2 separate regions of the Homo sapiens genome follow, and region 2 is linked to region 1. Evidence: fine-mapped expression QTL. A gene starts in region 1. The other region holds a variant in brackets. All regions are shown on one strand. Distances are from middle to middle. Region 1 holds the start of DRAXIN (dorsal inhibitory axon guidance protein). Region 2 overlaps AGTRAP (angiotensin II receptor associated protein).

What was found. PIP is the estimated chance that this variant, and not a neighbour inherited with it, causes the effect.
Region 2: its variant is fine-mapped to the expression of DRAXIN in whole blood (TOPMed, PIP above 0.99).

The regions. Positions count from the first base shown.
Region 1 is chr1:11,683,393-11,699,492 of GRCh38, forward strand. DRAXIN (dorsal inhibitory axon guidance protein) reads left to right here and starts at 8,318. Exons shown (of 7, transcript NM_198545.4): 1 at 8,318-8,461. It also overlaps a transcript of MAD2L2 not described here. RefSeq lists enhancers at 1-302, 1,252-1,752, 6,616-7,125, 7,126-7,633.
Region 2 is chr1:11,745,012-11,753,976 of GRCh38, forward strand. AGTRAP (angiotensin II receptor associated protein) reads left to right here. Exons shown (of 5, transcript NM_020350.5): 2 at 792-826; 3 at 2,429-2,534; 4 at 3,404-3,599; 5 at 5,066-5,758. The coding sequence ends at 5,181. Among named protein-coding and RNA genes, the nearest start is that of C1orf167, 13 kb to the right of the region's middle. RefSeq lists enhancers at 3,174-3,850, 3,851-4,527. The variant T/G (reference allele first, on the strand shown) is at 4,334.

The DNA of each region.
Region 1 (16,100 bases):
ACTAGAAACCTGTGGATAAAAATATCTGGGTTTGCAAATATCATATGTTCTCACTTGTAAGTGGGAGTTAACCTATGAGGATGCAAAGGCATAGGAATGATATATTGGACTTTGGGGACTCGGGGGGAAGGAAGGGTGGGAAGGTGAGGGAAGGGTGGGAAGGTGAGGGACAAAAGACTACATACTGGGTACAGTGTACACTGCTGAGGTGATGGATGCACCAAAATCTCAGCAGTCACCACTAAATAACTTACCCATGTAACCAAAAATTATTGCAATTAAAAAAAAACGTCAGCTGGGCACGGTGGGTGGCTCACGCCTGTAATCCCAGCACTTTGGGAGGCTGAGGCTGGTGGATCACCTGAGGTCAGGAGTTTGAGATCAACCTGACCAACATGGAGAAACCCCATCTCTACTAAAAATACAAAATTAGCCAGGTGTGGTGGCGCATGCCTGTAATCCCAGCTACTCAGGAGGCTGAGGCAGGACAGTCACTTGAACCCGGGAGGCGGAGGTTGTGGTGAGCCAAGATCGCACCATTGCACTCCAGCCTGGGCAACAAGAGCGAGAACTCCATCTCAAAAAAACAAAAAAAGTCTGGGTTTGGGGCCTTGGGTTCAGATCCAATCACAAACAGAAGGAAGGTGGGTTAGGAAGCAGATGGGGAGGGATTCAAACCCATCTGACCCCAAACCCCTAAAAGGCTTCAGTCTCATTAGTGAAATGAACAGGCCAGATAGATGTTCCCTAAACCTCTGATGGCCTCAGGTTCCATGGGGGCGGGGGCAGGGGCAGGGGGCCGAGTCAGCATGGGCCCATCCGGGGAGCTCTGCCAACACTCCATCCATGCGCTCTTCAGCATCTGGTTTTGCATATCTTAATCGCATCAGCATGATGGATGGTTGTGGGATCCAGATTACATTATGGGGTTAATTTATTACATTTTTGAACATCCGTCTGCTGGGAGACTGTTGTTCAAAGTTATTTGCATATTTTTCACCATAATGACAATATGTAGGAGGGCGGCTGGGAAGGAAGGATGGGTGTTTAGGGGGAGCAAGAGTTTATTTGCCAACTAGAGCAGGTCCCTGAGGATCTCTGATGGGGACGGAGGGAAAATCACTCCCAAGAGACACTGAAATGGAAACTGAGAAGGTGAGCTGTGAGCACCAGCCCAGCAAAGAGGAAGACCTGCTCGGGCAGAGGAGGACTGCTGGGGTTTATGGAACAAACCCACAGTGAGTGAACCGGGCAATGAAGTTTCCAGACCCCAGAAATGATTCCAAGACCCCTCCCATCCCCACCAGGCTGATGGCAGAATGAATCAGCTCTCCCACCCTGCCTAAGGTTCCCAGGACACCAATCACATGGGTATGGGGGACATACAGAGTGAGACACACATAGCCTGGTGACAATCTCCTGATATCCTGACGCTCAGGGGCCCATCCAGTTGCAATGCTCCGGGGCAGGGACCCAGCCCTCATTCATTATTTCAATATAGTGCCTGGCCAAATTCAGGTTCTCTCTCTCTCTCTCTTTTTTTTTTTTTCCCAGAGACAGGGTCTCTCCTTGTCACCCAGGCTAGAGTGCAGTGGGGCAATCATAGCTCACTGCAGCCTGAAACTCCTGGGCTCAAGGGATCCTCCTACCTCAGCCTCTTGAGTAGCTAGGATTACAGGTGTGCACCACCACACCTGGCTGATTTTTCAAATTTTTTGCAGAGGCAGGGTCTCCCCATGTTGCCTAGGCTGGTCTCGAACTCCTGGGCTCAAGTGATCCTCCTGCCTCTCACCCTCGCAAAATGCTGAGATTACAGGCTTGAGCCACCATGCCCAGCCCGAATTCAGGTTCTCAGCAAATGTGTGTCAAATGAGTGAATGAAAGAATGAATGGCAGAGGAATGAAGTGATGGTGGACAGTGGCTCATTACCACTTGCCTGACTTGAATCCCAACTGAGTCTGGATGAGGAGCAAAACACGTCGACTTCAGTGCCCGGGCTATGGGTGGCACTATGCAGAGAAAAGCTATTTTCAAAAACAAAAGCAAGGGCTGTGGCATGTTCCCTATGGTGTCCCCAGCACCCACTGGGCCTGCTCATGTGTCCAACCTGCTGCTTCTCTCCCCAACACTGCCCCTTAACCAGCTGCGAGGCCCTTCTTTCTCTGAACCTCAGTTTGCTCATCTGTAAAATGGCATAATGGTAGTTCTAATTTCATAGGATTGAGCAAAGAGCAAATGTTTATGTCCATGTTCATGTTTATAAAAAATATAAAGTGCACAATGCCAGGCATGGTGGCTCACGCCTATAATCCCAGCTTTTTGGGAGGCCAAGGTGGACGGACCACTTGAGCTCAGGACTTCGAGACCAGCCTGGGCAACATGGCAAAAACTCTACAAAAAATATAAAAATTAGCTGAGCATGGTGGCGTGCACCTGTATTCCCAGCTACTTAGGGGGCTGAGGTGGGAGGATCACTTGAGCCCAGGAAATCAACGCTGCAGTGAGCCATGTTTGTACCACTGCACTCCAACCTGGGTTATAAAGTGAGACCCTGTCTCAAAAAATAAACAAATAAATAAAGTGCACAATGCCTGGCACATAAATGCTCAATTAATGACTGTTATGACAATGATATTAAGGTCTATATACACTATTTAAGCCCCCAGAACAAACCCTCTGGACAAGCTGTCACACTTTTCAAAACCCCATCCAAACCATCCTTAGCGGCATCCCCATAGCTCCATTTCCATTTCCCAAGGCAGCAGGCAACTCCCAAGGTGCCCTAGGGAGGACACGCATCATCACGGAACAAGATGCCTAAAGACAAGGACTTCCTGCTGACAGCTCCTCTCCGCTCTCATCTGCCTTCTGGTGTGAGGCCTGACCTGGACAGCTGTCCCAGATCCCAGGGTTCACTGCTGACCTGAGATGGCTTCCGACACTTCAGCCAGAGCAAAGCCCTCACCTGCCATTCCCTCCGTGGGGTTCTACTGATTCCCAGTGTTGCTGACCCCTCAGTGGTCAGGGGGACCTTACTGATCATCTGCTCTTTTTTCATAGAGACAGGGTCTCGCTGTGTTACCCAGGCTGGTCTTGAACATTTGGCCTCCAGAGTTCCTGCTTCAGCCTCCCAAAGCTCTGGGATTACTGGCATAAGCCACCGCGCCTAGCTAATTTTTTTGTACTTTTAGTACAGACGGGGTTTCGCCATGTTGGCCAGGCTGGCCTCGAACTCCTGACCCCAAGTGATGTGCCCGCCTCCACCTGCCAAAGTGTTGGGATTACAGGCTTGAGCCACTGCGCCCGGCCCAGAGACACTAAATGCCTTACACAACATCAGGAGTGTCCAGATATATTCAGAAGCCATCCTGGGCCACAAGGTAAGAACTTTTGATCCAGCTCAACTGCCACTTTAAAAAAAAAAAAAAAAAAAAAAAACTTCTCTGTGGAGATATAATTCACAAACCATAAAGTTCACATTTTCCCTGGGTACAATTCAGTGATTTTTAGTATAGTTACAATGTTGTACATCGCTACTCTCTAATTCGGAACATTTTCATCACTCCTGATGTCTTGAGAAGGGTTGTTCATGCCCAAAGTGTGTTGCCAGGTACATCAGTTCCAAAACTACTAATCTACTTTCTGTTCTATGGATTGTCCAATTTTTTTATTTTTTTATTTTATTTTTTGGAGACAGGGTCTCACTCTGTCATCTAGGCTGGAGTGCAGTGACGCAATCACAGCTCACTGAAGCCTCAACCTCCTGGGCTCAAGCGATCCTCCCACCTCAGCCTCCCCAATAGCTGGGGCTACAGGTGTGCACCATCACACCCAGCTAATTTTTATTTCATTTATTTCTTTTTTGAGACGGAGTCTCTCTCTGCCACCCAGGCTGGAGGGCGGTGGTGCAATCTCGGCTCAATGAAATCTCTGCCTCCCCGATTCAAGCGATTCTCCTGCCTCAGCCTCCCGAGTAGCTGGGACTACAGGCGACCTCCATCACGCTTGGCTAATTTTTAAATTTTTAGTAGACATGAGGTTTTGCCATATTGGCCAGGCTGGTCTCGAACTCCTGACCTCAGGTGACCCACCTACCTTGGCCTCCCAAAGTGTTGGGATGACAGGCATGAGCCACCACGCCCAGACTAATTTTTAAAATTTTCTGTAGAGAAGGGGTCTCACTATGTTGCCAGGCTGGTCTCCAACTCCTGGCTTCAAGAGGTCCTCCTGCCTCACCCTCTCAAAGTGCTAGGATTACAGGCATGAGCCACTGCGCCTGACCTGGACTTGCCAATACGGAACATTCCATATAAAAGTAATTGTACAAAATATGGTCTTTTATGTCTGGCTTGTTCCACTTAGCATAATGTTTTCAAGATTCATCCAGGTCGAATCACATATTGATACTTCATTCCTTCGTAGAACCAAAATACTCCCGTGTATGGATAGACCACATCTGCTTATCCAGTCATCAGTTGATGAATATTGGAGCCTGCTTTGGCCCCTCAAGTACCTCATTTTACAGACAAGGAAACTGAGGCCCTAAAGTCATCATAAACTGGATGGGATAGGAGTCCAGGCCTCTCCTAACATCCACCTTTTCATATTGTGTCACCCCAGCTCCAAGCACATCGGAAGATCACCCAGCCAGGGGACAGCCACAGTAGCAGCATTTGAACCAGAGACTCCAAGGTTTTTCTCCTGGCTCATGAATACTGGCCCACAGCTCTATCCTTGGCGACGCAAATCATGCTGGCTGCACACTGCCCCCTCTCCCAGGCCCAGGTGACCATCATCTCTTCTCTGCCACAGTACTTAGCTGGTCTCTTGCTTTCACCCTTGTCCCACTGCAGACTACTCCCAACCTTAGGAATCAGCACACGTGGCCGGGCACGGTGGCTCATGCCTGTAATCCCAGAACTTTGGGAGGCCGAGGCTGGCGAATCACCTGAGGTCAGGATATCGAGACCATCCTGGCTAACATGGGGAAACTCTGTCTCTACTAAAAATACAAAAAATTAGCCAGGCATGGTGGCAGGTGCCTGTAGTCACAGCTACTCAGGAAGCTGAGGCAGGCGAATCGCTTGAACTTGGGAGGCAGAGGTTGCAGTGAGCCAAGATCGCGCCACTGCACTCCAGCCTGGACAACAGAGCAAGACTGCATCTCAAAAAAAAAAAAGAAAAAGCAATCAGCAAACCTGCTAAAAACCTAAGTCGGATCATGTCTCTGCTCTGCTCATGGTCCCTCTAAAAAGCTCAAGTCCTCCCTGTGGCCTTTGCAGGCTCACATTGTTAGAGGTGTCTGAACCAGAGCAACCCCATCTTGAGTAGGGGCTGGGTCAAATGGGGTTGGGACTTGCTGGGCCATATTCCCAGATGGCTAAGGCATTCTAAGTCACAGTATGAGACAGGAGATCAGCACAAGATACAGGTCATAAAGACCTTGCTGATAAAACAGTTTGCAGTAAGGAAGCCTGTCAAAACCCACCAAAAGCAAGATGGCCACGAGACCAACCTCTGGTCATCCTCACTGCTCCACTCCCACCAGTGCCATGGCAGTTTACAAATGCCATGGCAACATCAGGACGTTACCCTATATGGTCTAAAAAGGGGAAGCAAAGGCCAGGCACACTGGCTTACCCCTGTAACCCTAGCACTTTGGGAGGCCAAGGCAGGCAGATTGCCTGGGGTCAGGAGTTCGAGACCCGCCTGGGCAACATGGCGAAACCCTGTCTCTACTAAAAATACAAAAAATTAGCTGAGCATGGCGGTGTGTGCCTGTAACCCCAGCTAACTGGGAGGCTGAGGCATGAATCGCTTGAACCTGGGAGGCAGAAGTTGCAGTGAGCCGAGACTGTGCCACTATACAAGCCTGGGCAACAAAGTGAGACTCTGTCTCAAAAAAAAAAAAAAAAAAAAAAAGGCTGGGTGCTGTAGCTCGAGCCTGTAATCCCAGCACTTTGGGAGGCTGAGACAGGTGGATCACCTGAGGTCAGGAGTTCAAGACCGGCCTGGCCAACATGGTGAAACCCCATCTCTACTGAAAACACAAAGTTAGCGGGCATGGTGGTGTGCACCTGTAATCCCAGCTACTCGGGAGGCTGAGGCAGGAGAATTGCTTGAACCCGGGAGGTGGAGGTTGCAGTGAGCTGAGATTGTGCCACTGCACTCCAGCCTGGGTGAGAGCAAGACTCCCTCTCAAAAAGAAAAACAAAAGGCGGGGGGAGGGGAGAAGCATGAATAATCCACCCTTTGTTTAGCACATCATCAGGAAATAACCATAAAAATGGGCAACCAGCAACCCTTGGTGCTGTGCTGTCTATGGAGTAGTCATTCTTTTTATTCCTCTACTGTCTTAATAAACTTTTTACTCTATGGACTCGCCCTGAATTATTTCTTGTGCGAGATCCAAGAACCCTCTCCTGAGGTCTGGGTCAGGACCCCTTTCCTGTAACAACATGGTCCTATCCCAGCTCCCTGTCTGATGTCACCTCACTCTGTTCCAGACTGACTCTTCTCCACCAAACACACCAAGCACACTCCCGCTCCAGGACCTTTGCAGTGGCTCTTCTGCTTGCAAGTCTTCTCCCCACAACCACGTGGCTCATTACCTCCTTTTCTTTGCCAAAAGAACTGCCCCAGCAAAGAGGCCTTTCCTAATAACTTTATGTAAAACAACACCTCGTCCCTTCATGCTTTGTCTGTAATGTGCTTTACTTTTCTTCATAGCACTAATCACCACCTGACATCATTTATATTTATTTGTTCACTTATCTTCTGTCTCCTTCACTAGAATCTGAGCTCCATGGGGGCAGGGATTCTTGTCCATGTTGTTTACTACTGTACCTCCGGTGCCGGCACATAGTAGGTGTTCAATAGGTATTTATGGGATGGATGACTCAAACCTTTCAGTGAATAAACAGTTCAGTGTTCTCATCAATCCATCCTGGTGCCCACCAAGCTAATAATATCACGGTAACAATGGCAGCTAATTTTACAGGAGCATTTCCTATGGGCCAGACCTTAGAAACGTTATCTCCTTACACAGGGCACTGCATTCACGCCTAGAACACTGAAATTTAGGTATAATCATGAGCTCAGAGGTCAGGCGACTTGCTCGAGGTCATAGGGGACGGCATCAGAAGAGGAACACAGACATTTAGCCTGACGGCAGAACTGTGTTCTAAAACCTCAAAGTCATAATTTGCCACACGCTGGAGAAAGAAAACAGTCGAAATGGAAGCCACCTGGCGAGCTCAGGGCGCCAGGTGGGAGCGCTGCTTCCCACATATGGGAGTCCGGCCCCATCGCTCTTTGATCTTTGCAGCGTCCGTGGCCCCACCGACCCCGTCGTGAGTTATGGGAGGCACGGGACCCATAACCCAGCATTCTCAGACTCCCAGGGTCGTCAGGACACGGCGCCCCGCGCGGTGATGGATGAGCCGGCCCCAGCGCTGGCTTTGTCCGGGTTGGGCCGGTCTGAGAAGCTTCAGGCCGGCTTTGGACGGGGCGTGGCGAGAGCCGCGCCGCGTGTGAGTGTGTGTGTGTGTGTGTTTGTGTGTGTGTGTATTGGGGCGGTTGTCTTTCTCCCTTCCCTACCGGGAAAGAGGGCACAGGTGCGCCGTCAGCGCCCCAGGTGAGCTGGTAGCACTTTGAAGACCCTTTGTACCCCTACATCCAGGAGCGACCTCTCGGAGAACCCCGCCTGCCCACTCTGCGCACTTTCTGCGGCTACAAAGGCCCCGCCGTTCCCCGTCCCGCCTCCCCCGCCCTGGGCATTTCTTCCGTCCCTTTTGACAGTCTAGGCGGAATAATCCTTTTGTGGCCCCGGGCCCCTGCCCTGACAGACGCGGCCGCAGCTGAGCGCGCAGCCTCGCTCCATTGTTGGGGTCCACCGAGGACCGCCCGCCGCGGCCCTTTGTCGCCCGCCCTGCGCGGGGCCGCTCCAGAGGCGCCACAACTGCCGGAGCCCCTCCCGTCCCACGCGCCCTGGGCCGCGCCGAGGCGGCTCTTACGCACCGGGAGGAGTGGGCCTGCCTCGCCCGGTGCCCGCACGGCTGCTGGGCTGCGCCCGCCTTTGTCTGCCTCCTTTGTCTGCCCCGCGCCCTCGCGGCGGCGGCGCCTAGGCCTCTGGGGAGCTGGCCCAGAACTCAGAGCGCAGCTGGCGAGGGCGCGCTGGCCGGGTGCGCGCCGGGCCCGGCCCCGGGGCTGCCCCTCGGCTGGGGGCAGTCGAGCCCGCCACCCGCCGCCCCTCCTCTGTCCCCTCCCCGCGCTCCCGCCCCCTTCCCTCCTGCCCGCCCACTCCCCCTTCCTTCCAGTCCCGCTCAGCCCGGGCACATCCTCCGGCTGCCCGCGCACCTCTCCACGCCGGCCCCGTTCCGCGGCTCGCCCTCGGCTGCGCTCGGCTCCCGCGGGCGCTCGGCCCCGAGCCCCTCCTCCCCCTACCCGCCGGCCGGACAGGTAAGGCACGGCCTCGGCCCGCCCCTGGCTCCGCCCCTCCCGCCCCACCTGGCTGCGAGCCCGGACAAAGGTGGGCTACCTGGCGCGCCCAGGGGCGGGGTGCGCGGGGTCCCGAGGCTGGAAGTGAGGATGCTGCCTCCTTCCCAGCCCTCGGACCCGTCTATCCGCCAGTCCTTCCGCCGCCTCCTCTCCTCGCCGCGTCTGCCCACGGACCCTGGCTCTGCTCCCGGGCTCCCCATCCGTCCACCTACCGCTGGACGCCCACTTTTCCACGCTCTGACACTCGGCCTCGCGCGCGCCCTCGCCGCCCTCTGGGGTCCCGGCTCGCACCTACTCTCCTCGGCACTAGCCTTCTCTCTCCCTGACCCAGTCTCCCTTTGTCTCTCTGTCTCTGAGTCTCCGGGTGGTCTCTCAGGCAGGGGGCCCCAGTCCGCCACCGTTGGAAGAAGTCTTCGAAGACTCCCTGAGCCCCGGGCAGAGCTGGCGGGCGTGCCCTCCAGCCCCTTTCGAGGCCGCCCAGGAGGCTGGGGTGTGTGGCCGGGGTCGCTGAGTGCGCCCGGAACCAGCACCGCCGGTGGCCCCGCGCCGTCCCATCTGTGCCCAGGAAGGTACTCAGCCTGGCTCCCCCGACGGCGCTGGTCTTTCGCCTGTGGTCTCCCGCTCTGTCCCTCCTGCTCCCCACCGCCGGCTTTTGGCTTTTCTCCGTCCGCTCGTCAAGGGTCTCAGCCGCCTTCGGGGCCGGGGTATGAGATGAGAGAGGGCTGGGGTTTCCCGCCAAGTCTTTCTTGCTTTCCTCAGCTGGGTGCTCCCTGGGCCATCCTCTCCGCCCGGTGGTCTCCCCTGCCCTATATGCTCCCTCCACGCTGCCCACCTCCCAGCCCAGTGACACACTGGTGTCTGGAACCGGTTCAGTACTATGCATCTGGAGTCGGGTACACTGGGGCTCTGGGAGTGATCTCGGACAAAGGAATGCACCTCTCTGAGCCTCAGTGTTCCTGTCACAAAACAGGGATGGTGCTAGTCCCTACCTATAGGGATGTGTGTGGAAATTGTGGGGTGCCGCTTGGTGCTGGTTCACACACCCTGTGGAGGAAGGGAGGGGAGGGGAGGGGAGTCTACAGACCTGGGATGGGGTGGGGACAGGGGGCTCCACAGAAATGGATCTCAAAGTCAAGGCTTAGAGACACTTCAGAGTAACCCCACCACCACAGCCTCTTCCCCCATCACACTTCCTGTCACCTTCACCTCCTCGTGCCCATACAGGCGTCCACACCCTTGCAAGCACTCTTCTCTTTCTCTCTCTCCTCCTCTTTGCTTGTCCTAAAATCAGCTAAAACAATCAGGGCCAATGGGTCACTTTTTTTCAAAATGAGATCAGTGTGGCTGAGCTGGTGTTGCCAACAACTGATCACCCATCAGAAGGCGTCCGGTGACTCACCCCCAATTCTGAACCTCAGTCTTGGCTTGATGCCTTTAATAGCGGCACCAGCTCACAGGCCACTTCCTTTCCTCTGAGGGGATTGTCTTGCTGGCTCCTGGACCTGCTGTGTGCTTGCCCAAGCCCCCTGACCACTGTCTAGGTGGTCATAACATGTGACACACCACTCCAGGAGTCTGGCAGTGACGTGGCCTGAGTGTCTTAATGAGGGCAACTTCAGAAGAGGGAAACCTCCCAGCTGGCAGGTTCCAGGCTCCCCTGGCTGAGTTCTTATTTCAGCCACAGCCAGGGCTGGCAACTGGAACCTTTCTCTTTAGAGGCAAGAACGGCTGGATATCCCCACGACATCCCCCATCCAGGCTCCTGCTCGAAATCCGACCTGGCAGACAGGCCCTACTTTGGTGAACCCGGCCCTTCATACCATCTCTACCCCCTGCCTTCTGCAGCAAAGCCAGCTCAGAGGCTTGGGAACCTTGCTCAGGTCCTCTCTGCTCTCTCCGCTGCCTTCCTCCCCACTATTCAATTCATCGCCCTCCCAGTCCATAGTCCTCAGTGGCTCACTGTGGCCACTCAGTTAACTACAGAGACCTCAGCCCAGCCTAGCCCTGTCCTGCCTGCCTCCCAGCATTGTCCCCTCTGCGTCCCAGGTTGCAGCCACGATGGAGAACTGACCATCTCCACAGTCTGCCCTCCTCTGAGCTTTTGCTAGGGCTCTTTCTGCCCTGCCCTGTGTTTGATCTCAGCCCTCTGTCTTTGCTGACCAAGGAGGTCTGATGTCCTCTCCTGTGGGAAGCACCCCGGCACTCCCTTGCCTCCCTAGCTCTTGTGAACTGCACGGCATAATCCCTATCTGGGAGGGGTCTGCTCCTCCCTGGGTGGGGGCTGGGTCTCCTTCTGCTTGTGGTCCCAGTGCCTGGCACGCAGTAGGGGCTCTGTGCACACCTGTTATATTGAATGTGATTCCTGGTCAAAGGCACAGGAATGAACTGAAAACTGCAAGCCCCAGTGTCTTGCTGAGTTCTGCTGGGTCCTGCTGGTGGGGCCAGGGCGGAGCTGGCCCTCTGGCTGGGGAGGTTGGAGGGGGAGCAAGCTGCCCGGAAACCCCTGTGATACTGAGGCCCTGTATCACTCTGGAAAATGAGGGTGGTCTCTGTGCCTGTTATAGGGGTAGAAACTGAGACCAGAGAACGAAGTGGCTCACCCCAGCCGTGCAGATTGGGTTTGAAGCCCAGCTGATCACTTAGCAGCTGTGGGACCCAGAGGGAGTTCCTTCACGTGTGTCGGCCAGGAATGTGATGGAGCAGGGACTTGCATCCCAGCCTCCCCGAACTTCCCTCAGAGGCATGAGCATGTTCCTGGGGGGCAGGTCATAGGAGCACCCCTGTTCTGGCCCAGTGGGTTGGAGCTGCCTCCCTCTTGCTCCGCTGGCCCTCTCTGCATGCCCTACTCCAGCCTTCCTTCTCAGGGGTGAGTCGCTGTGGCCAGTGGTCCCCAAGAAGAAGAAGGTTGTGGGAGGATGGCTGAATCCTTGCCAGTAGAGGCTCTGCCACCCCAGGTTCCAGCTTGACAACGCCCCATGCCCCAACACCATGACCCACCCATGCCCCAACACCAAGACTTCTCTTGATGGGATGGGGTTGAAGGGGTGGTTATGAGGGATGAGGCTCCTGCTAGAACCCAGAGCAACTGGAAGGAGCTCATTGCAGGACTTAATGGTTTTCAGGTGTACCAGGCTCTGGGTCAGGCCCCAGCTCATGCCACCTTCCCTGGGACTCACAGCAGCTGCACTGGTGTTGGTTACTGGATGGCAGCATGAGGAGCAGTCTCGGCCAGGAATGTGATGGAGCAGGGATGATGAGTCTGAGGAGTCAGATGGCTGTGGGTTCGAATCCCAGCTCTATCACTTGCTCTACTAGGCTATCTTAGGCAAGTCCCTTGGTCATTGTCTTAATGTTCCTACACAGCCATTGTTGCTATTACCATCTGAAAAATATTATCCACTTCAGGCCAGGTGCAGTGGCTTATGCCTATAATCCCAGCACTTTGGGAGGCCGAGGCAGCTAGCTCACTTGAGGCCAGGGGTTCGAGACCAGCCTGGCCAACATGGTGCAACCCTATCTCTACTAAAAAAAAAAGATACAAAAATTAGCTGGGAAGTGTGGTGCACGCCTATAATCCCAGCTACTTGGGAGGCTGAGGTAGTAGAATCACTTGAACCCAGGAGGCACAGGTTGCAGGGAGCAGAGGCTGCAGTGAGCTGAGATTGCACCACTGCACTCCAGCCTGGGCAACAGAGTGAGATTCTGTCTCAAAAAAAAAAATATATATATATATATATACTTCAAAGGGTCAAGTTAAATAATGCCTATAAAGCTCTGGGCCTAGAACCTAGAACAGTAGATGATACCCAAACAAACACAGAGCTAAATGGTCTAGGTACCAAGATAATGAAGTTTGAGGAATATGGAGGCTGAGGGTTGCTTCCCCCACCCACAAATTGCCTAGGAGAGGAGGAAGAGGGGCCACAAGTACCTATAATCTAGCAGGAGGTAGGACTCGAGTTCAGCAGGTGAGCGGGGAATGCTGGAAGCTGGAGGCCTTTGAATGGGTGGGGCCTCTGATGAACTCCCGCAAAGCCCCTGTACAGGTTTTTAAGGTGTGAGGTCTGGGGTGGGTTGAAAATCCCAAGGCTGCTGTCGGAAACAATAAAAGCAGATGGAGCTGCCCCTGCAGGGAAGCCAAACCTCATTTGCCAGGACAATGGTCCCCTCCAGGCTGGCCTAGGACAGTCCTGCCCTGCCATCGATCACCCCACTGAGGACAGAGGACGCAGCCACCTGCGCCTGCCCCTTTGCACACCCAGGCACAGATGCACAAATGCTTCCAGGAAACTCCCTGGCCCCCACCACACCCATGCCTGCCACCTTACTCCCTCTGTCTCCCCTTCCCATAGTAACAACTACTGTTTATTTCACCCTTCTGTGTCCCATTTACTTTATAAACATTTACTCCCCAGCCGGGTGCGGTGGCTCACGCCTGTAATCCCAGCACTTTGGGAGACAGAGGCAGGCGGATCATGAGGTCAGGAGTTCGAGACCAGCCTGGCCAAGGTGGTAAAACCCCGTCTCTACTAAAAATACAAAAATTAGCCGGGCATGGTGGTGGGAGCCTGTAATCCCAGTTACTCGGAAGGCTGAGGCAGGAGAATCGCTTGAACCTGGGAGGCGGAGGTTGCAGTTAGCTGAGATTGTGCCATCGCACTCCAGCCTGGGCAACAAGAGCAAAAATCTGTCTCAAAAAAACCAAAACAAAAAACACTTTGGGAGGCCAAAGCGAGCAGGTCACGAGGTCAAGAGATCGAGAACATCCTAATCAACACGGTGAAACTCTGTCTGTACTAAAAATGCAAAAATTAGCCGGGCGTGGTGGTGTGCACCTGTAGTCCCAGCTACTCGGGAGGCTGAGGCAGAAGAATTGCTTGAACCCAGGAGGCAATGAGCCTCCTGGTTTCAGTGAGCCAAGATCGCGCCACTGCACTCCAGCCTGGTGACAGAGCAAGACTCTGTCTCAAAAAACAAAAACAAAACAAATCAAAATAGCCAGGCATGGTGGTGCATGCCTGTAATCCCAGCTGCTTGGGAGGCTAAGGCAGAAGAATCACTTGAGCCCGTGAGGCAGAAGTTGCAGTGAGCCGAGATCGTGCCATTGCACTCCAGCCTGGGCAACAGAACGAGATTCCATCTTAATAATTAAAAAAAAAAAAAAAAACAACTTTTACTCCCCAATCCTCATGACAGCTAACATTTTACAAGAGAGGAAACTGGGGCCCAGAGAGGTTAAAAAACTTGCCCAGGTTGTCTAGCTCCTTCTGCTTTGCTCAGTGAGGGCCCTCCCATGGGTCAGCTTAGTGGGTTTGGGCTGACATCTGTGAGCTGGAATCGGTAGTAGTGATGTCTGGGCCTCCACCTCTCATTAATGAGACCTGTGGCCTCTCACCCGGACTGTCTCCCTTATCAGTGGGGACACCTGGAGGCAAGGACTGTGTCTTTGCTGGCAGATCAGCAGCTCCATGTTCTGGGACCCTCCCAAGGCCAGAGTTGTGCCTCTCCTATCAGATTGGCAAATTCCTGAGGACAGCAACTGTATCTACCCTGCTAGATGGGAGGCTTCCCCAGGGCAGGGGCTGCTTCTGGCTTAGATTGAAAGCACTCTGCAGCCATGGGCTAGGTCCCCTAATAGTCATAGAGTCCTCTAAGGCATGACCTGGTTCCCTCCTATCCCAATGAGCCAGGACTATGTGTCCGCCCTCAGACTGGTGGTTTCCAGGAGCAGAAGCCAGGTCTCTCCCTTCAGACTGGAGCAGGTGCCCTTGTCTGGCATCCTGGTTCTGCACACAGAGGGGCTCAGCTAGTGGCTGACCACCGGGATTCACTCTCCCCTGCGATCTCCATCGCAAGGAGGCAGCAGTCCCCAGCAGAGCAAAAGGCAGAGCTCTGTGCCTGAGAAAGACCCGTGGAGGGGTAGGTGGGGCTCTGGCTGCTCTGAGGCCTAGGGGTTGCTGAGAGGCCCCTTCCTATTGGTCAGGTGACACTTTGGGCGATACAGAGCCACAGGGAGGCAGGGAGATGGGTAGGGACTAGTCCAGGATGATCAACGCACCAGTATGCCAGTGAACACCCAGCAGGGCAGCTGCTGTGAATCCCACCCGCCCCATCCTCTATGCCACCTGCACTGCCGGGCTCCATCCATACCCGGAACACCACCACCACCCACCCACACACAAACCACACAGAAGCACTGACTTCCTAAGTAGTCAAGTCTCATGGCAGCCTAATAATCCCATTTCACAGACAAGGGAATAGACTCATGAAGGGAGGAGATGTTGGGAGGGATCAGGAGGGGGGTTAGAACACTCTCGTTTCAAATTACCTTGGGAAGAGCTCAGCCCAGGAATTAATTTAGAATCCATACAGTTGTTCCCCAACTCTCATGTAGGATATGACTGTTTTGACTGAACAAGAAAATTACCCACTTTCCAGCCCTAGGGGTGTCAGCTCCACCTAAACAAGACAGAAGTCTGCTCCTAGGGGGCCGGGGCTCCAGGAAGCCCTAACTAGATCTGGGGCTGACTGCAGAGTGGCCACACTCTGCTAAGAGCAGATGGGGCTTCCGGACTGCACTGCCCATCTCCAATTCCTGCCGTTTCAGGAAGTGTCCATGTGAGTGATGAGGAGTAGCCAGAGGGAAAAGTTGGGCAGATCAATCTCAAGTTAAAGCAATTGCTGGGCCCGGGACTCACGCCTGTAATTCCAGAACTTTGGGAGGCCAAGGTGGGAGGATCACTTGAGGCCAGAAGTTCAAGACCAGCCTGGGCAACATAGGGAGAGACCTCATCTCAACTAAAACTAAGAAAAAATTAGCCTGGCATGATGGTTTGTGGCTGTTGTCCCAGCTACTTAGGAGACTGAGGCAGGAAGATTGCTTGAGCTGGAGAGGTTGAGGCTACAGTGAGCTATGATGGTACAACTACTCCAGCCTGTAGGGCAGAGCAAGACTCTGTCTACAAACAAACAAAAAAGCAATCGTAAAATCTTCCTGGAACTACAGAGACATAAAACCTGAGATGATTCCTGCATTCAACAAAATCTCCTGAATCTGGGGATACAATTCCTCCCCACAGAGCTCCTAGGTTGGGAGTATCCGGAAGGGAAGATTTTGCCCCTAGCTCCTGGAGACTCAGTCCACACCCTACTGGATATTGTCTGTCACCCCTCCCCATAGGGGTCTGACAGTTGAACAGACAGACAGATGGAGGAGTCTTATCGTCATAGATCATAAATTCTCAGGCTCCCTTGGCAGACAGGGCCTTTGGGACCACCTAATCCAATGGCCCAGTGGTCCTCCTCCCCTACTCCCTGCCAAAAAGAAATGTTTTGAGTAGTGCAAATCTTTTCCCAAATGAAATTCGATCCGTAATCCCAATACATAAAATCAACAAAACAGTGTTTTATAAGCAGTGTAGCACTCCACCACCACCAAGAATGCCTTTCCCCAAATCAAAAATGTCTCTATTTTATGCAGACACAACACACCTTTAAGCCCTACTTGCGATCAGACTAACTCTCTTTGGCTTCTCCCACCTAGATTCTGTGCGACCACTGCTTTGCCCCAGTTTATAATAATTACTTATTTTAATTTTTG
Region 2 (8,965 bases), 58 kb after region 1:
GCCCGGCTAATTTTTGTATTTTTAGTAGAGACAGGGTTTCACCATGTTGGCCAGGCTGGTCCTGAACTCCTGACCTCAGGTGATCCACCCACCTCGGCCTCCCAAAATGCTGGGATTACAGGTGTGATCCACCGCGCCCAGGCTGGTTGCCCATTTTTATAGTTATTTCTTGATAGTATGCTAACCAAGGGGTGGATTATTCATGCCTCCCCTTTTTAGACAATATAGGGTAACTTTCTGACGTTGCCATGGCATTTGTAAACTGTCATAGTGCTGGTGGGAGTGTAGCAGTGAGGACAACCAGAGGTTACTCTCGTGGCCATCTTGATTTGGGTGGGTTTTAGCCGGCTTCTTTACTGTAACCCGTTTTGTCAGCAAGGTCTTTATGACCTGTACCTTGTGCTGACCTCCTGTCTCATCCTGTGACTTAGAATGCCTTAACCATCTGGGAATGCAGCCCACTAGGTTTCAGCCTTATTTTACCCAGCTCCTATTCAAGATGGAATTGCTCTGGTTCATACGCCTCTGACGCTTGGAAGGGGTGTGGGTGTCAGCTGCCCCATGGGAGGGGTGAAGGCATGAAGCGGCCCCTCCCTGGCCTGGCCTGCTTTCTTCCTCCTCCTTCACTCCTGGGCCACCTGCAGTTGCTGGTGTGCCTTTTCAACAGACATTACTGAGGCCCTCAGAGGTGCCAGGCGCAGGGGCGTCCTGTGTTTTCTGCACCCGACGCTTTCCTGCCCCTGTGGTGGTCATGTTCACAGACCTCTTCTCTCCCCCTTGTTGTGCCACAGGTGATTCTCCTAGGTCACTGGCTGCTGACAACCTGGTAAGTGACTCTGTGGGTATCTTGTGTGTCTCCTGCGGTCTCAGGGTCTGTGTCAGCCGGGTCAGGTCCTGGTTCTGCCGTGTTTTAACCAGGTCACTTTGGGCCAGACAGCTCTGCCTCTCCGGGTCTTGATTTCCGTCTGTACAATAGGCATAAGGATTGCACACCCTGCAGGAGCTGGGAGGGAGACGTGGAAGTGCTCATCAGAGCTCCCCAGGGCCTGCCCCACAGTGAGGCCTCAGCACTGCAGCTTGATTTTCACCTTTACCATCTCTTTTAATCTGTTGAGCTTCTGGAGACATTTCTCTGCCAAACCAAGACTGGAAACCATTGAGCTCACCTGTGCACTTTGCAAACTTCGAAGTGCAGCGCACAGGGCAACAGCTGTGAGTAATGTGAACTGTAACCATCATGATTCACGACCTTGAGAAGCAGGGCCAAAATACAGATTTCTTAGTCACACTTCCCCAAGATTCTGAGTTGGTGATTCTGGGCTGGGACCCAGGCACCTGCTTTCTTAAAAGCAAAAGATAAGATGGTTTATTCAAAGACCTATTGAACCGAATGGCACTCCACACCTGCCTTGCACATGTCTTCTGCATGTTACACTTTAGTGAATGTCCTATAAATCTAGGAAGCGCCCGCTGCATGCAGGGGAAGGCAAGGCCCAGTGGGTTTGGTAATAAATGAGGTAGACTCAGTCCCTGTCCCCCTGAGTCTTCCTTGCAGCACAGCAGGGTGAGCAAGAGCATGGCCTCTCCAGCCAGACTCCAAATCCCAGCCCCACTGCTCAGCAACTGTGTGACCTTGGGCGAGTTACTTAACCTCATTGTGTCTCAGTTTCCTCATCTCTAAAGTGAGGGTAACAATAATACTTCCTTCCTATGGTTATTAACATAAATGTACATGAATGAGTTAATTTAAAACAGAACCATGCTAGGTACTAGCAAGTGATCGGTGTTCACTATGATTTTGATTGGATTGACAAGTAAGTCAACAATGTCAGTATCAGTACCCTAAAAATAGAATAGGGCGGGCCTTGTGTTAGGAAAGTGACGAACTTGTACTTAGCACCGGTGGGCAAGGGAAGGAGTCTCAGGGTGAACATTCGAGTCTCAGGGTGAATGACAAAAGGAGGGCCAGGTGTCAGGGTAGAGGGCGCCCGCCGCACAGGGCAGTGGCTGGGAGGTCAGTAGGGCGAGGCTGTGTCCGGGATCCCACAGGCCCCTTAGGCCCTGGTGAAGAGTCTGCATTTTATTCCAAATGGGACAGAAAACTGTTGGAGGATTTTTAGCAGAGGAGTGACAGCATCTGACTACGTTACCGGTTGCTGTTTAGAGAACAGAGTGGCAGTCAGGACGCTGGCACAGGGTGGCTGCGGCTGTCATCTGCCAGGAGAGGGAGGTGCTTTGGATCTACAGGGACACAGCCAGATCCAGGGTCTGGGTGGGAGGCGGAGCCCATGGGATTTGCTGGCACACAGCCGGGTGGCCTCGAAGACTATGGCATGTTCTGGGAGGAGGCCCTGAGACGCCGGAGCAGGAGGGAGGTGACCTGCGGGGTGGTGGCCTCCTGACGGGACTGAGCTACCTCTTCCTACAGGGGCTGCATTGTATTCTCAGGCTCCTATGCCTGGGCCAACTTCACCATCCTGGCCTTGGGCGTGTGGGCTGTGGCTCAGCGGGACTCCATCGACGCCATAAGCATGGTGAGCCAGGGTGGGGGAGAGGCGGCAAGGCGGGGAGCCGCAGCACAGGGCAAGACATAGCCTGGCTCTGCTACCCCGTCCCATCCCAATCTTCCCCCTCTTCCTTGGGCCACCACTTCCCATTGTCTAAAGCCTGTTCATCAGCCTCCTGGGCTCCGGCCCATGCCTGTGTTCAGGAGCCCAGCCTGCTGCTCTTCTTGTCTGGCTTAGAGAACCCCAAGTCTGCCATTATCTCCCTGAGGAAAGCCATGGGGTGGGTCCCACCAGTGCCTCGGATTAGCCACTTCGCAAGAGCAGTGGAACATCCCCTGTAACCTCCCTCTGCGGCTCTCTTTTAGGGGAGGGGATATGGCTGGGAGACCCGGCCAAGAGGGCATTTCACTACTTTAGGAAGTAGAGGTGACCCTGCCCCACCGAAACCTCCCACAGGGGGAGCTTCTCAGCACCCACGGAGCCCCGTGGGGCAGTGAGCACTCCCGCACGGGCTCTTCAAGCCGAGGCCAGGGCCTCAGGATGACTGAGAAGAGATTTTCTTTGTGTTGGAGAAGGACTGGGTGAACTCCAAGGAACCTTCCTCTATGGAGGTTCTAGAGCCAAGTCTTGTGCCCATCATGGCCTTGGAGATGACGGGAAATGGGTGGGGAGGGAGGCTCTGGTGGAACCGAGACCTGGGCCCCCGGCATCCCTGCCCCCAGACTGCAGTCTCAGCCAGCGGCTCCCCAGCGGGGCCCTGCCTGCTTGCTTGATCCATTTTCCCGCAAGCCCCAAGGACACAGCAGGGCATGAAACGGCTTCCCATCCGGTGTGTGGCGGGGGAGCCACGGAGCGTGGTGGGGGTGTTGTGCTCATCAGTGTGGTGTGTCTTGCAGTTTCTGGGTGGCTTGCTGGCCACCATCTTCCTGGACATCGTGCACATCAGCATCTTCTACCCGCGGGTCAGCCTCACGGACACGGGCCGCTTTGGCGTGGGCATGGCCATCCTCAGCTTGCTGCTCAAGCCGCTCTCCTGCTGCTTCGTCTACCACATGTACCGGGAGCGCGGGGGTGAGCTCCTGGTCCACACTGGTGAGGCCACCACCTCCAGCCAGCTCCTCACCGCTCCCTTCTCTCCCTTGCCTGGCCTCCAGCCTCTCCCTCAGTGAGCCAGCCTTGCCCCATGGGGCCAGGGCTCAAGGTGCAGGGAGAGCGTGGCATGGGCGCTCTGTACTAGGCTGGACAGGTCCAAGCTCCTAGTCTCTGCTGCAGGAGCCCAGGGGTCCCCTGGTTGTCCTGGTCTGCCGTGACCTTCTTCTGCTGTGAAGCTGAGGCTGGGCCCTTCTCTCAGCCCAGAACACAGGCACAGCTGGGGGTACCATTTAGTTCCCAGGGGCAGCCCTGGGCTGTCTCCATCCTGAGGGCCACGGGCACCTACAGGTCTCCTCTCTGTTCTCACCGGGGCCCATCACTGGAACCCCATTTCCTGCCACATGGGGTCTTCCCTCTCCTGCTGCAGAGACTGCTAGGTGGCCAGGGCAGAGCCCGTGCCAGTGTAGGCTGTGGGAGCCTCAGTGAAGACAGCCCTGAACAGGGGGCACTTTCCCTGCCCACCGGCCCCTCCCCACTCACCCAGCCTTACACCTGCCCTCTCCCACGCCCTCTCTGAACTCCTGTACTCCTTCTCCTGGTGGCCGAGCCATTTGCCTGCTCTCTGACACCTCTCTCTCTCTTCCTTTCTCTCTCTCTTTGAGAGGAGTGGAGGGAGGTGGTAGGGTGTGGCCTTCTGCCTTTCACTCCTGAGATGAGATGCCCCACGTGGCCTG[T/G]GACTGCCACCAGCTGGTTGAGGGTGGGAATGGCCTGGGGCTGCCCACAGTGGCTGACCTCAGCACTGCCTGGGCCTGCCCCCAGGTGAGGGGTGCCAGAATGTTTCTCCCATTGGACAGATGAGGAAACTGAGGCCCACATCCTTTGGGACTTGTTCAGGGTCCCGGGATGAATGTACAGAGTAGGGGATGGGAGTGAGGCATGTGGCGTACTCGGAGCCCTACGGCCCTGCCTTGGACCCAGCCCCAGCCTCCGAGGCCATCTGGATATGGTAATGTGGTGTCCTTGTACCTGGGAGGGGAGCTGGAGAGGAGTGCGTGGGCCCGGGGCTGATGTCCCTCTGCCCAGGTTCCTAAGCACGTGCTGCCTGGGGAAGCCCATGGCACAGGGGCCAGGAGCCTGGCTTTGGACTCGGCTGCCTAGGCGTGGGTCCCAGCATCATCAGCTTTGAGCTGTGTGATCTCGGGCAAGTCACTTCATCCCTTTGACCCACAGTCTCCTCATCTGTAAAGTGGGGACAATAAAAATACCCGTCGCACAGGGATACGGCAGGATTGAATGAATAATACACGCTAAAGGTTTAGGGCCTGGGGCTGCTGCCTCTGTCTCTGTGCATGGTGTCAGGATGCCCAGCCCGAGGGTGGCGGGGGTGGATCTTGGGTTGGACTCAGCTGAACATCCCGAGTTCTCACCCTTCATTTTTCTTTCCCACCATGTCCCCTGTCACCTAGGTTTCCTTGGGTCTTCTCAGGACCGTAGTGCCTACCAGACGATTGACTCAGCAGAGGCGCCCGCAGATCCCTTTGCAGTCCCAGAGGGCAGGAGTCAAGATGCCCGAGGGTACTGAAGCCAGCCACGCTGCGCCCGGCCCTGCCCCGGGCCTTCCTCGTGCCTGGGAGGTCGTTCTAGGGATGCTCCTGACCTCCGTCTCTTGGACCTAAGATGGAATGTGTCCCCAGCTCAGGGATTGCCTGAACCAAGAGGCCAGGAGCCCCCATGGGCCGCCCAGTACCATGCACACTCCTGTCCCGAACTCCCTGAGGCCTCCCCTCCCTTCAGGGCACCCACTGGTTCCCAGGCTGGAACCAGGGTCTCTCTTTACCTCCTACCCCATGGTGGCACCACAGAGGCCCTCAGCCGAGTCCTGCCTGAGTGTTGCAAGCTCAGGCCTTTAAGGACTGCTGATGCCCCCTCAGGCCTCCCCCAAGTTTGCTGGGCTTTGGTGGAAGCCCTGAGAGCTTCAGGTCCTGCTCAGCCCGAGGAGCAGTCTGGCATGGGAGTGAGGCCCCGTCCTTCTCACTGCCTGGTCACATGGTGCCTAGGGATGCAGGGCTGGAGGCCAGAGGTGTCAGCAACACTGTGTCCCACCACAACCTCCAGCCTCCCTTTTCAGAGCACAGCATTAAAGTTTGGGGAATTCTGTAGATGGGCTGTGTTTTGAACCACCTTCAATCTCCTGGCTGGGCTGGGGCCTGGCCTTGTTCCTGGGAAGATGTCTCCTGCCAGTTCCCAGGTGGAGCCTGTGCTGTGCTGCCCCATTCTGTCATGGCAGGAGGAAACAGGCATGTGCGTTGGCTGAGCTGGGCTTGAGCCTGGCTCTGGCCTAGCAGAGGCCACAGGAGAGAGAGACACTGGTGGGTGTGGTGCGTGGGCATCCGTTTCTCTGAACCAGATGACCCAGGCACTCTTTGGAATCCTGCTCTGCCACTTACTAGCTGCATGCCTTCAGTGTCTTCTAGAAAGGGTTGGTGCCTGCTCCAGGTGTGAAGTGCCTGGCGTGAGGAGGGCTCCCTAAGTGATGGTGAACTTGTTAGCAGTGGACCTGCTCCTCAGGCCAGTGACGATGCTAGGTTAGGAGGCAGGGGCGACCTCTTCCTGGTAGCCCCTGTGTCTGGTCACAGCTGACTTGGGCTGACACGTCCAGAAGTTCCCCAGGGCCTCGGCCCACCCCACGGACAGGTCTAGCTATTCACAGCTTGCTCTTCTGCCCCCTGGGCACCAAGTGCCAGGGCTTTCCCAGGCCATCCTGGCTTGTCCCTGGCACAGGGTCAAGGCCTAGTGCACAACTCCCATTATTCTCTTGCGTCCATCTGTCAATCAAAAGAGGCTCAGTACCTGCCTGGTGCCGAGCGGGCTTGGGGCTGCAGTGGTGACCTTGGGAGCCTGCTCTCAACCTAGGAGTCTTCCCACCTGGAGGATTACAGACAGAGGCAAGAGCCCCGAAAGAAGAGGACATGGGCCTCTGGGTCAGGGAGGAAGGCTGCTGTGGGGAAGGGGCTGTGCTCCGGGCAGAGGGCTGCTGAGCAGCTGCAGTTGTGAGAAACTGGAAACAGCCTCACTGTCGGGAGACGGACCAGTAAGCCACGGTCCATTCATTACAGGGAGTATGGACCAGGAAGCCACAGTCTATTCATTGTAGGGAGTATGGACCAGGAAGCCACAGTCTATTCATTGTAGGGAGTATGGACCAGGAAGCCACAGTCCATTCATTGTAGGGAGTATGGACCAGTAAGCCACGGTCCATTCATTATAGGGAGTACGGACCAGTAAGCCACGGTCCATTCATCGTATGGAGCACAGTGCAGCAGTTACAGCTGTTAAACCAGACCTATTTCCACCAACGTTGGCCCCCCGCAAATGTGAACAAAGCAGATTGCAGAATGGCATTGGGATGAATTTTCAGACCTCACAGCAATGCCATATGTTGTTCCTGGGTGTATGTGCGGTAAAATAGAAAAGCATGGACTAGAAGGACACCTGTCAGGTTCATGACTGTAGCCACCCTGGGTGGAGGAGGAGCGTGACCCGAGGGGAATGGGACTAAGACCCAAGTCCGTTTATCTTGTGTATACAGCATCCTGGCCCCGGGAAGGCTTGTGTACCTGCGTCGTGAACGTGTCAGATTCCCAAAGGGAATGAAAAGCCAGGGCAGGGGCTTGGCCCAGGCAGTGGGGGCAGATGATGCAGCCTGGGCCACGCACAGGGGAGTGTATCTAGACACCTCAGTCCCTCATCGTCCCAGACCCCCAGGTTGAACCGGCTCTTTGCGGGAGAGGACAGAGGAAAGCTCCTGTCTCAGAGTGTACCCCAGAAGCAGAGCCTGCGATGAAAGCAAGGGTGCCAGGCTTTCCAGTCATTGGCTAGGAGCTGCTCAGGGAGTGGGAGAGGGTGGCTTAGATTTGCAGGCACTGTGCCACCCCCCGACTGTGCAGGCAGTCGGGAGCCGGAGGGCCATCAGAGGCAGACAGAAACGGTGGAGGAGGCAACCATGTGGCTGCCCCTTCCACACAGCGGCCTTAACAGGGAGAGCTTCTAACATACAACAAGCGCCCCAGAGCCCACTGTGAGTGAGGCCGTGTTCCAGAGGCAGGGGATGCCAGGGTGCGGGAAAAGTCACCCAGGGGCATTCCATTTAGCATGAGAGGTTCTTGGTGACAGCTAACAAGGCCTGAGGCAGAGAGTGGCTGAGCAGAGAGGGTGGGGGAGGGAGAGAAGAAGACAATGAGGTCAGAAGGTGGCTGGGGTCAGATGTGCAGGCTTAGCAAGTCATTCTGAGGACTCCAGTTCTGGCTGAATGAGATGGGAGCCCCTGGAGGGTGTTGGTCAGAGCCGGGCAAGGTCTGCCTTATATTCTTTTTTTTTTTGAGACGGAGTCTCCCTCTGTCGCCCAGGCTGGAGTGCAGTGACGCGATCTCAGCTCACCACAACCTCTGCCTCCCAGGTTCAAACAATTCTCCTGCCTCAGCTTCCTGAGTAGCTGGGATTACAGGCATGCGCCACCACGCCCAGCTAATTTTGTATTTTTAGTAGAGATGGGGTTTCTCCATGTTGGTCAGGATGGTCTTGATCTCCTGACCTTGTGATCCACCTGCCTCGGCCTCCCAAAGTGCTGGGATTACAGGCGTGAGCCACTGCGCCTGGCGTTTTGTTTTGTTTTGTTTTGTTTTGAGACAGAGTTTCGCTCTTGTTGCCCAGGCTGGCGTGCAATGGTGCAATCTTGGCTCACTGCAGCTGGGTTCAAGCGATTCTCCTGCCTCAGCCTTCCAAATAGCTGGGATAACAGGTGCCTACCAACATGCCCAGCTAATTTTTGTATTTTTAGTAGAGATGGGGTTCACCATGTTGGCCAGGCTGCTCTTGGACTCCTAGCCTCAAGTGATCTGCCCACCTTGGCTTCCCAAAGTGCTGGGATTACAGGCATAAGCCACTGCACCTGGCTTGCATTCTAAAAGGACCATGTTGGTGGCTTGGATGGGGGCAGTGGTGGGGGTGGTGACAAGTGGTCAACTCTTGGACACTCTCTGAAGGCAAAGCAGCAGGACCTGTGATGGGCTGGATAGAGGATGCAGAGACAAGCCCGGGACTGTGAGGTGTGGGCCTGACTGGAAGGCTGGAGCTGCCGCTAGCCAGGAGGGAGGACGTGGGAGGGCAGGTCCAGGATGAGGGCAGGTCCAGGATAAGCCCAGGACTTCAGCCATGGACGGGCTGCACTGTGCTAACGAGGCTTTCCAACTGGACATTCTCACCACTGTGCAACTTTTAAAAGGCCCATGTCTGTAGGGACTTGGAAGTAGGGCACCCTGCAGGTTTATATAGTGTCTGACATTCTTGAGGCTGTCAACCACAGGAAG